2 separate regions of the Homo sapiens genome follow, and region 1 is linked to region 2. The links come from fine-mapping of genetic effects on gene expression. Tissue or cell type: testis. Region 2 holds a variant in brackets; the other region holds the start of a gene. All regions are shown on one strand. Distances are from middle to middle.

Region 1 (5,385 bases), 20 kb after region 2:
TATGCCACATGAACTCAATAAACTTTAAAGAGGGCCTTTCATGTGCAAGGCATTCAGTATCATCTAACTAGACTGTGAGCTCCATGGGGAAAAAGGCCTCTTGTGATACTGCACCTATTTCAAGAATCCTAATGTGTGATGGCTAAGAATGTGCACCTTGGAGTTGAGCTTGCCCAGATGTGACTCCCAGAGTCATGCGACCCTGAAAAAAATTACTCGACCTCTCAGTTTTCATTTTCCTTTTTTTTTTTTTTTTTTTTTTGAGACAGAGTTTCACTCTTGTCGCCCAGGCTGGAGTGCAATGGCACAATCTCGGCTCACTGCAACCTCGTCCTCCCAGGTTCAAGCAATTCTCCTGCCTCAGCCTCCCAAGTAGCTGGGATTACAAGTGCTTGCCACCACACCTGACTAATTTTTGTATTTTTAGTAGAAATGGGGTTTCACCATCTCTAGCCATCTCTGGCCATCTCTCTGGCCAGGCTGGTCTCGAACTCCTGACCTCAGGTGAGCCATCTTCCTCGGCCTTCCAAAGTGCTGGGATTACAGGCATGAGCCACCGCACCCGGCTTCATTTTCCTCATCTTTAAAATGAAATGATGATAGCCATCCTCTCATAAAAATATTAGGATTAAATCACGTAAAGCATGATTCTTGTCTTGTCTCCTTGTTCCCAATTCTTTCTGTCTGGTTTCTATTTTATTGTGCCTGTTCTTACCTGTCCTTCCCTTTTGTGGAGAAGGGGAGAGCAGAGAGCCCCAGCAGAGCTATGCTGTATCATTGCTATGTAGATGGAGCTCATTAAACACCCCTCGATTGCTTGAATACATGGGAGATCCACTCTTAGAACATTTAGGGACAATATTTCCTGTCCCCTCATGTCACCTTGATACTTCCCCTGAAAAGAAATGGAACTGAGAATTACCTACGACTGAGAATTACCTACAGTGCTAACCATCCTCACAACCAAAAGCACAGTTTAAAAAGAGGGAAAATATAACCAGAAAATAGGACAATATGTGATCTTTTATCTTTTCATAGGGCAGAAAACTTTCTCTTAATTTTGTTTGAATGGAAATTTGACATCCCAGTGTAAAATGAAAGCTGTTTATAGAAGTGTTTCTCTTTTCTTTGTTTGAGTACTTCATGAGTAAAAAACATTTGAACATGTACATATACAGATACATATACATATTTATATTCAATCACTTAACAAATATTTATTGAGCATTTACTATGCACCTTACCCTGTTTTAAGTGCTAAAGACACAGCAGTGAATGAACCAAACTAACAAAATAATCTTTGTCCTGTTATCTATATCTTAGCCACATGTAAGTTTTGGTTTTTAAAATGGGGGGAGTCAAATATATGGTATGAGGGATTTACACTGTGGAGGAAAATAAAGAAAGGCAGACAGGAAATGTGGAGTGGGCATTTTAAATAGTGTGGTCAGAAAGGGACTCACTGAGAAGGTAACATCTGAGGAAAGACCCGAAAGAGGTAAAGGTGAGCCATGCAGATATCTAGGGAGGAGCTGCACAGGGAGCAGGAACAGCAAGGGTCCCGAGGCAGGAGCGCAGCTGGTGTGTTCACTAAATAGGAGGAGGCCAGTGGGGCTGGAGCCAAGGAGCCAGGAAGAGGTGGACAGCAGACAAGGCTGGACAGTTGAGTGGATGAGCTGAGTGCAGAGGTCACTCTAATGACCTTAGCTTTCACCTGGGTGAAACTGGAAGTTTTTGAGCAGGAGTGACAAGTTCTGAGTTCCATCACTCTGAGAGCTACGTTGAGAGTAGAGTGCAGGGGCCAAGGTCAGACGGAAGGAGACCAGTCAGAGGCTGCTGTTATAACCCAAGTGGTGATTTGGCCAGGTGGCAGCCAGTGAAAAATACAGCCAAAAAGATGACACAGTACTAGCAAATAAGATGTACTAAAACTACATAAAAATTAAAAGTTTAAAAGAATGATTTAAAGAAATATGAATTCCAATATTCTCTTTCCCAAACTCCAACTCAATAAAGTATTGTGTTCATCCTTGGGGTGTAGGCCACACCTACTTTTGGAGGCCATTGTTTCACAATAATTGGTTGGTTGATTTGTCCCGGCTGACCTGAATGTCTGCCTGGCTTTCTGTCTTTAGACTTCTCTTATGCTCACTTTCCTTTTTCCTGATCTTGCCAGTCTTAGACACCAAAACAAGTCTCCTCCACAGAGACTAACCATACAGAGGCTGGTGATTACATGTAGGAATTTTCTTCCTTTCTTGAGAAAGTCTGTGGTCACCATGTCAACTGCACCCAACTCTGGGCCAACCCTTCAGAAATAAACTTGTTAGATGCACATGTTATTTGGGTTCAATAAAATAGGATTTTGCCTGGGAGGACCCAAGGTATTTGCTAAAGCAACACCTCTGAAGAAGGCTAAGGTGGGCCCCAGCTCACAAGAGACAAGCATGGCCTTTGTAAGGATTGCTCCCTTTATCCTGTAAGAAGTTCAAGAGGATTCTCAAAGAACCACACTGAGAACAGCCCCAGGGGTTCTGTGTCCCCACAGCCAGGCTCCTGGAGATGCCAGAAGACAAACTTCTTGGAGAAAGGACTCCTCACCCTTAGACAAAACTCAGGATGTGTTTACCAAACCTGGGAAACTTTAAAGCTGCCACAAACACACTTGGGAGAAAATCAGAAGTTCATAAAAGGCAGATACTTTTTGAACTGAGATTCCACAAGATGAGAAAAGACTGACATTGAAATATGTGAGGAGCTATCTTAGAATGTTAGAGCTTGGAAGAATTTAGAGAATTTTCTACCTGTTCCCATTTTGACAGACAAAGAAACGAAGGCCAGGACTTACCCCAAACCATACAACAGTTAGAAGAACCATGAGTAGAATCCACGTCTTCTGATTCCCAATCTAGTGTTATTTTTAAAACAAACTAAAGCAAAACAAAATTTTTTAAATAAAAAAAGCAAAACTTTTAGAGACAGGTTAGAATTGTAATTAATTTCCATGTCTAGGCTCAAACAGATGTTTCCACAAGTCTCCCTAATTTTACTAAAAGCTCTGAAAGCTTTCTTAGGGGAAAATGGTCTTCTGGTATAAAAGATATCCTAGAAAGCTATGCTTGGATGCTTAAGACTCCCCAGGATGGGAGCAAGGGGACTCTAAGCAAACAAAAACCAAGAAATGCAAACAATTATCGACTTAGTAATCCCTGAAACAGCCCAAAGTGGACTATATATTTATTTGCTTAGCTCACTTTATAGAATATAAATTTTAAGTTTTCAAAAGAGGAGGCAAGTGAAAAGATCCTTAAAAATTATGAATATCATAATTACAAGCTGGATTCATGAATCATTAATTTCAACCTCTTAGGCTACCAACATATTTACAAACATAAACACTGATAAGGGCAAATACCTGCATTCCCGACCTCTGAAAGCAGCCAAAGCCAAATAATATATTGGTTAAAAGGTTAAAAAGGAGTAATCTATAAAGAGGGCAATCTTAGGCCAGGTGTGGTGGCTTACCCCTGTAATCCCAGCACTTTGGGAGGCTGAGGCAGGCAGATCACATGAGGCCAGGAGTTTGAGACCAGCCTGGCCGACATGGTGAAACCTCATCTCTACTAAAAATACAAAAATTAGCTGGGCGTAGTGGTGCAAGCCTGTAATCCCAGCTACCCGGGAGTCTGAGGCTCAAGAATCACTTGAACCCCAGGAGGGGGTCGGCGGGGGTTGCAATGAGCCAAGATTGCACCACTATACTCCAGCCTGGGAAACAGAGCGAGACTCTGTCCCAAAAAAATAAAAATACAGAATAAATAAAATGGGTAATCTTAGATTATCTATGAATTGAAGTAGGGTGGAGAATAGGAATTAGTCCTAAGTCATTGACATGGGTTAAAATCCTTCTCTGGAACTTGAAGCTGTTTGACTTTGTTACCTGGAAAGCCTTATTAGAGCTCATCTGCAAATACACCCTTCATAGGCACATTTGTAAGAAATGCTATAACACAAACCATGTGAAGAGCATCGGTCTCCATTACAGGCACCAAGTCACAGAAGGGAGAGGGCAGAGCTGAGGCACCATAAAGGCATCCAGTCCAACCTCTTCATTTTACAAAGAGAAACCTGAAGCCTACAGAGGTTAACATGTCTTGCCAAGGGTTGGCTAATGTACAACATATGTCACTTCTCCCTTCCCGTGTACCCATAGCAAACACTGGTAATCAATCACACTTTCTCGGATCCTTGACTGCAAGAGTCAGAATGTTTCTATCACATTACACCTGCAAGTCCTGGACCGATCAGAACTCATGTGTGACATGGAAGCTGTTTCCCAACTCTGCACAAGGTCATAAAACAATCTTTGTAATACCTGCACCACTGTAGACCTGACTCAAAAGAGACAGAGTAGTCTGCTAGTCAAACTAGTTTACTGTCACTGTCAAGCCTGTGGTGAGCAAACATGGAGTCTATGTGAATATATGATGACCACATATCCAGGTTTACCCAGGACAGTCCTGGCTCACGTCTATTTGTGGCTTCATATTGAGTAGTATCACCTATGATTCTCAAACGGATAAAAATGATATAGTCATCCTAGTTCTGTGTAGTTCCTAATCATTCACAAACATTTATAAATGTTGTTTCATACATGATGTGTCAGGAAAAAAAACAAAAACAACAACAAAAAACACTTAACCAATCACCAGGAGTTTTCTCATACAAAGGGGCTTTCAAATAATACTAAACCCAACCAGTTTTCAAGAGGGACTCAGGGACCACTGTCCAAGCCAATCTTTTTTATATATTGAGCTTCAATATGAAATTTCTTCGGGGGAAAAAAGGAGTGTCATAGCTTAAACAAATTTGGAAATCACAAAATTATCAGATCTCTGTAGCTCTGCCTGTTTTTAAATTATTTCGTGCTATACTTTAGCCTATAAAAATTCACATTATCTTGTAGAAATACAAATCTTTTTAAAGAATCTTTCATTTCTGTTTCTGGTACAAACAATTTGTGCCTTTTTGAGTTCGTATTTGCTCTCTGTTTACAGCAAAAGAGGAAGTAAAAAGTTGAAATCTTAAAAAAGAAAGAAAGAAAGAAAAGAAAAAGAAAAAAGTTAGTTCCATTAATCCAGAGCTAGAGCTTATGTGCTGGCGTTGGCTAAAGAGCCAATCATATATGTAAGAGAAGAATAAGTTTATTTGGAAAAGTCATTGGTGTAGAGAACACAGATATCAGCTATGTGCACAAGTGAAAGGTAATGATATTATCACACGAAAAGTTTAAAAATTTTAACTGGCTACCCAGACAGAAGACTAGAAGGAAACATATCAAAATGTCAAGAATAGTTATCTCTTGAGTATACAGGCTTCAGATGG
Region 2 (5,385 bases):
ACAGAGATCCCAAGCTGACTCCGTGGTCTAAGATCTGTCAGGACAAATTATGTGGAGATGGAGGAGCCAAGTGTGGGATGCTTGAGCAACCGCTGTACAATAGCCACGGTCTTGATAAGCCTCGCGGATGAGATTTTGGCGGACTAGGGATTGTACTACTGAACTTGATTGCTGAAAATGTAAAAGCCCATCAAAGAGTATTATTACCCCTTGATAAACCAGCTACCCACAGTGGTCAATTACTAATGAACAGACCTCTTTCACCAATTAAAGTCACATGTTACCACTCAATTCCCAACATATTTAGTCTTTTTCTCCCAGTAGTCCATCTCACTACTGTCTAGCTAAACCTCTCCAACTAAGATGTTGTTTGTCTTTACTTAAAAAACAGTCTTTCTGGAGTCTGGTCAGTGGGGCCCAAAAAAGAAAATAAAATAAAAATAATTTTTAAAATAAACAGTCTTTCACTAGAATGTTCTTTATATTAAAATCTTAAGCTCTGCTTTTTTTTTTTGAGATATGTCTTGCTCTGTTAACCTGCCAGAGTCCTGACTGACCTTCATTTGTTCATTCTCCTTGTGCAGTTCTTCAATGTTCTTTGCAAATGGATTTCACTAAAGTGAGTTCTGTCTATTAATGTCAGTAGGTATAAATGCCTGTCCATCTTTGGAGGGACTTTGGGAGATGATCTTATACCAAATGAACATGTTACATGCCTGTTGATAGGAGGCCTGATGCTTTATTTTCTCTAGAAAAAATAGATATTTCAATATTGTAAATTCCATTAAGGCATCCTGCTCCCCACCTCCTGATCCTCCATCCCCCACCCCCCATCACCAACAAGCTTTAGTTTCCCTAACCTCTCAATCTGGCAAAGAAACAACATCCCAGACCTTTTTGGTAGGTAGTTGTCCAACTCTCTGTCCATTTTCTTCTTGGCAAAATGGGAGTAACTTAGCTTAAACTGAAAAAACATCGTCAGTCCTTGTATAAGGCATAAGTCCCTGAGTAATTTACATCATATCTCCTTTTTGGGCCTGGTAATTTACAAAATCAGCAACAGGGAGTAAAGTACCTCTTTTGATGAATCTATCAGCAGATGTGTTTGGAAAATGAGGAAATGATGTTGCTAACTTGCCAACTGTATTTTGGCAGATAATGTAATAAGGTGACGTTTACTGCATTTCCTCTATTAAAGGAATACAGGCAAATTTTTTCCTTGGAATTAAAAATCTATATATTACCCTAAAATCCTCCCAGAAATTTAAAACTGCTCCTTTCTTGCTTATAACTTTCCCTCATTTTCTTCCCAGCAGTGGAAGAGAAGTTTAAATCTTGTTTAAATCCACAGTGAACTTTTTATATTGTGAGGCTGGTTGGTAGGTGTTAATGTAAAATTAGTGTTCTGTCTGAAGCCACGTAAGATGATTCTGGTATAAATATGGTAACTGCAGGACAGCCGTGGTGGCTCACACCTGTAATCCCAGCACTTTGGGAGGCCGAGGCGGGCAGATCACGAGGTCAGGAGATAGAGACCATCCTGGCTAACAAGGTGAAACCCCGTCTCTACTAAAAATACAGAAAATTAACCAGGCATGGTGGTGGGCACCTGTAGTCCCAGCTACTCGGGAGGCTGAGGCAAGAGAATGGCGTGAACCTGGGAGGCAGAGCCTGCAGTGAGCGGAGATCATGCCACTACACTCCAGCCTGGGTGACACAGCAAGACTCTGTCTCAAAAAAATATATATATATAGTAACTACAGTGTCTACTGTGTTTTGCCATTATGTTTTCTTTTTTTTTTTCTTGGAGTCTTTGGAGAAAGATTAAAAGGCTTGGTGGCGTATGTATGTCTTGAATGCCAGACTGAGAAGTTTATAGTAACAGGCTGGTCTGAGAGGCGGTGTGTGTTTAAGTGTTTGAAGATGAGCCTGGCATTTGGATATAAGGTACTTTAGAGAGCTCCAGTTGGGGCTGTTGGAATGGTTTTGATGTGGTGTGATGAGGACTTAGGAGTCTATGGCAGATCTGAGGGCCACCCTGGGATGTTGAGAGGTGAAACAGAGAAGATGCTTGAAGTTGGGGATTTTATTTTATTTTTTTGAGACAGGGTCTTTCCATACTACAGTGTTCTTTATACTAAAAACTTTAATCCCTCCAGGCCGGGTGTGGTGGCTCACACTTGTAATCCCAGAACTTTGGGAGGCCAAGACGAGCAGATCACCTGAGGCCAGGAGTTCGGGACCAGCCTGGCCAACATGGCGAAACCCCATCTCTACTAAAAATACAAAAATTGGCCAGCATAATGACATGTGCCTGTAATCCCGGGTACTCAGGAGGCTGAGGCAGGAGGATCATTTGAATCCGGGAGGTGTCCTCTCTACCTTAGTAGGCACAGAGTACACTGTTATGAATTTAAAATATACCAGCCTGTGGATTATTACTTGGCCAGTGAACTAATGGTATTCTATATCTGTTCAGAAACTTGTATTTTAAATTCCTTTAGAAGAGTCTCTGGAAGAGTTTTTAAGAGAAGAGAACATCATAGGAATGCTTTTATAGATATGTATGTTTGTATAAGCTTCTAAGCCTCACTTAGATTCTCACTGACCCACAGGATAGGTTAGTTTCTCTCACCAGGATGTGGAGGCTGGAGAGAGAAGTTGATGTCTCTGAGTTTGGTTACCCTTGTCCAGCACAAGACAAGTGACACCATACTGTACTGGTTATATTTTATTATAGCAAAACCTATTAAATTTTTTAAAGCCCATTATGATAAAATCCCCTAGGGACAAACAAAATGGAATGTAATTCATTTTTCAACCAATAAATATTTATTGAGTTCTATTAACCTTCATGCCAGTCTCTCGGCAGAGCCCCTGGATACATCTTTTAATACCTGCTCTACTGAAATCTCAGTATGAATCTCCATATAAAGCAATTTCCATATAAAGCAATTCCATAAGTTTCTATATAAAGCAATTCAAGTAAAAAATAGTGAAACAAATGCCAGCATGTCTCTTTAATTATGGTAAATATTTAATGTTTCCTTATAAAATAATTACAGCCTTAATAGAAACAAAACTGTTGAAAGTGTACCTGGATGACAATAATGGTTAAATATACACTTCAATAATTTAAAGTGATGAGTTGTTTTTTTTTCACAAAAGTTTAAGGTGGTAATGAAATCATTGGAATCCCTTTTACCAAAGTGAATTTTAAAAATTACATTTTCCCTCTTGCAATCATGTTTGTAGCATAAAGAAGCAATAAATGGGGGCAGGGAGTAAAGCTTGGGAACTATTCTATGTTAGGCTTGAGTAGTCTAG[C/T]GCAATGTCTGATAAAGGAGGGGTTTGAATTTTGGTATGGAAGGCTTTCTAACACTGCATTATTTTAAAGAATAGCTCAGTGATATCAGTATTCAGTTACTTAACTAGGCACGAGGTACCAGATACAGAGAGATTGTGTAGAAGAATGAACACTGTTAACTACTGTCTCCTCTCCCCGTTTGCTGGATCTATCTATGAATAGGGTGCTGACCTCTAATTTACTGAAATAAAAGGAACATTGTTCCTGGAAATATTTATGAGGCATATTGCATCTTCTCCACGTTATGGATAAGATGGAAAGACATCTATACCTATTGACATTAATAGACAGAACTCACTTTAGTGAAATCCACTTGCAAAGAACATTGAAGAACTGCACAAGGAGATGAAGAAATGAGGGTCACTCCCGCCTCTGGCAGGCTAACAGGATTTCTCTGGGTATTCGCTGCATTCCCTATCATCCCTCAGGACATTCATGTTCTATGACCAGGTCCAAGTTGCCTCACCATGAAAATCAAACAATGGAGGCCTTTTCCCAATTCTTAGAAGGAAAAAAACTACTTAAATGTGACATATACTCTTTTTCCCATTAATTTCTCCAAACCCTAGCACATACCACCACATGGTCAAACAAGAACTCACGGCAACAGAGAGTCAAACACACACACACACACACACACACACACACACACACACATAATTTGTGTGTTTAAACAAAATTCTAGAAATATGACTCATTAAAATTTTTACATTATTAGAGCCAGGCGTGGTGGCTCATGCCTATAATCCCAAAACTCTGGAAGGCCTAGGTGGGTGGATCACTTGAGGCCAGGAGTTCGAGACCAGCCTGGCCAACATGGTGAAACCCCGTCTCTACTAAAAATACAAAAATTAGCCAGGTGTGGTGGTGTGCACCTGTAATCCTAGCTACTGGGGAGGCTGAGGCACAAGAATTGCCTTAACCCGGGAGGCAGAGGTTACAGTGGGCCGAGATTACACCACTGTACCCCAGCCTGGGCAACAGAGCAAGACTCCATCTCAAAAAAAAAAAAATTAAATTTTTTTTTACATTATTCAATGTTAAGATACGAAGAGCTTCACTACTTACAATAGAAATATATCTTCTGCTTGTTAAGATAATAGAAAGAGTGATAGCCCTCTCTCAGATGGCAGAAACAGTCATAGCCCAATTTTGTGGCACTCTAGAAGGCTCCCTAAAAGATGTTCCCTTTGAGCAAGTTTAAGTATCACCCACTAGTCTCTACTTGAATCCCTCAGCCCACCCACATCACATTCTGCAGGAAGTGATGAAAAGTCAGGGAGTTTAGGTTATGTAAGGCCTGTGGACCCATTGAGCCAAACTGCAAAATGTGCATCAGTGAGCTCCACAACCTCCCCAGCCCCAACCCACTGCAGGAAAGTGTCTGGGGATGGGGCAGCCAAGAGTTAGTCACTGGAACATGTCTGATGCTATAAAATGCTACCTGTGATACCCAGATCCCAGGTTCTTTTCTTCTGGGTTCTGATCAAAACACAGTAGCCTGCCTGCGATGGAGCAACTAGAGGAAACAGGTTCCAGGTGTGGGAAGCCATGGGTTAAAAGGCAACTTGCCAAACTATGGGAAATATTCTAGTTGACGCTGAAGCCTTAATGCTTGACTCTAATGGAGGAGTCACTCCATTTTCTCATAAAAATGCTAAGTAGATTTCTGCTTTCTCAAGAAGCTAAATCCTTTTGTGGCTTTATGACTTACTCCTACAACCAAGAGCTTCTTAAGCTATTAACAGCCAAGTGTCACAGCCTTAAAGATTTGCACCGTTTGCTCATCTCAGGCATGCCCCCAGTCACAAATTCCTGCAAAATAAACCTTGGTTGGACAGATTGCAGAAAAACAAAAAGGAAAGAAAACATAAAACCTCATTATGGTTGACAAAGAACCTGTACAAAGCTTAAAGAGATCAATAAAATGATATAGGGTCAGATTCTGAAAAAAAAGAACAGATTTCACTATATGGTCACCTCTGGGAACCCTCTGACAAAATCAGAATCAGGCCTTC

Alleles and levels. Alleles are on the strand shown, and positions count from the first base shown. SD is a standard deviation of normalised expression in the study named.
For the expression in testis of the gene that starts at base 2,001 in region 1, allele C in region 2 goes with a lower level than allele T (moderate effect, 0.51 SD a copy in GTEx).

What was found. PIP is the estimated chance that this variant, and not a neighbour inherited with it, causes the effect.
Region 1: it holds the start of ANKRD44-IT1, and the variant in region 2 is the best candidate, but not a certain one, in a credible set for the expression of ANKRD44-IT1 in testis (GTEx, PIP 0.65).

What each region holds. Positions count from the first base shown.
Region 1 is chr2:197,300,519-197,305,903 of GRCh38, forward strand. ANKRD44-IT1 (ANKRD44 intronic transcript 1) reads right to left here and starts at 2,001. Exons shown (of 6, transcript NR_046837.1): 1 at 1,715-2,001; 2 at 445-895. The region is part of intron 1 of ANKRD44 (ankyrin repeat domain 44); the gene reads right to left. RefSeq lists enhancers at 1,409-1,698, 4,277-4,406.
Region 2 is chr2:197,280,519-197,285,903 of GRCh38, forward strand. All of the region lies in intron 1 of ANKRD44 (ankyrin repeat domain 44), which reads right to left. All of the region lies in intron 5 of ANKRD44-IT1 (ANKRD44 intronic transcript 1), which reads right to left. Among named protein-coding and RNA genes, the nearest start is that of ANKRD44-IT1, 19 kb to the right of the region's middle. The variant C/T (reference allele first, on the strand shown) is at 3,328.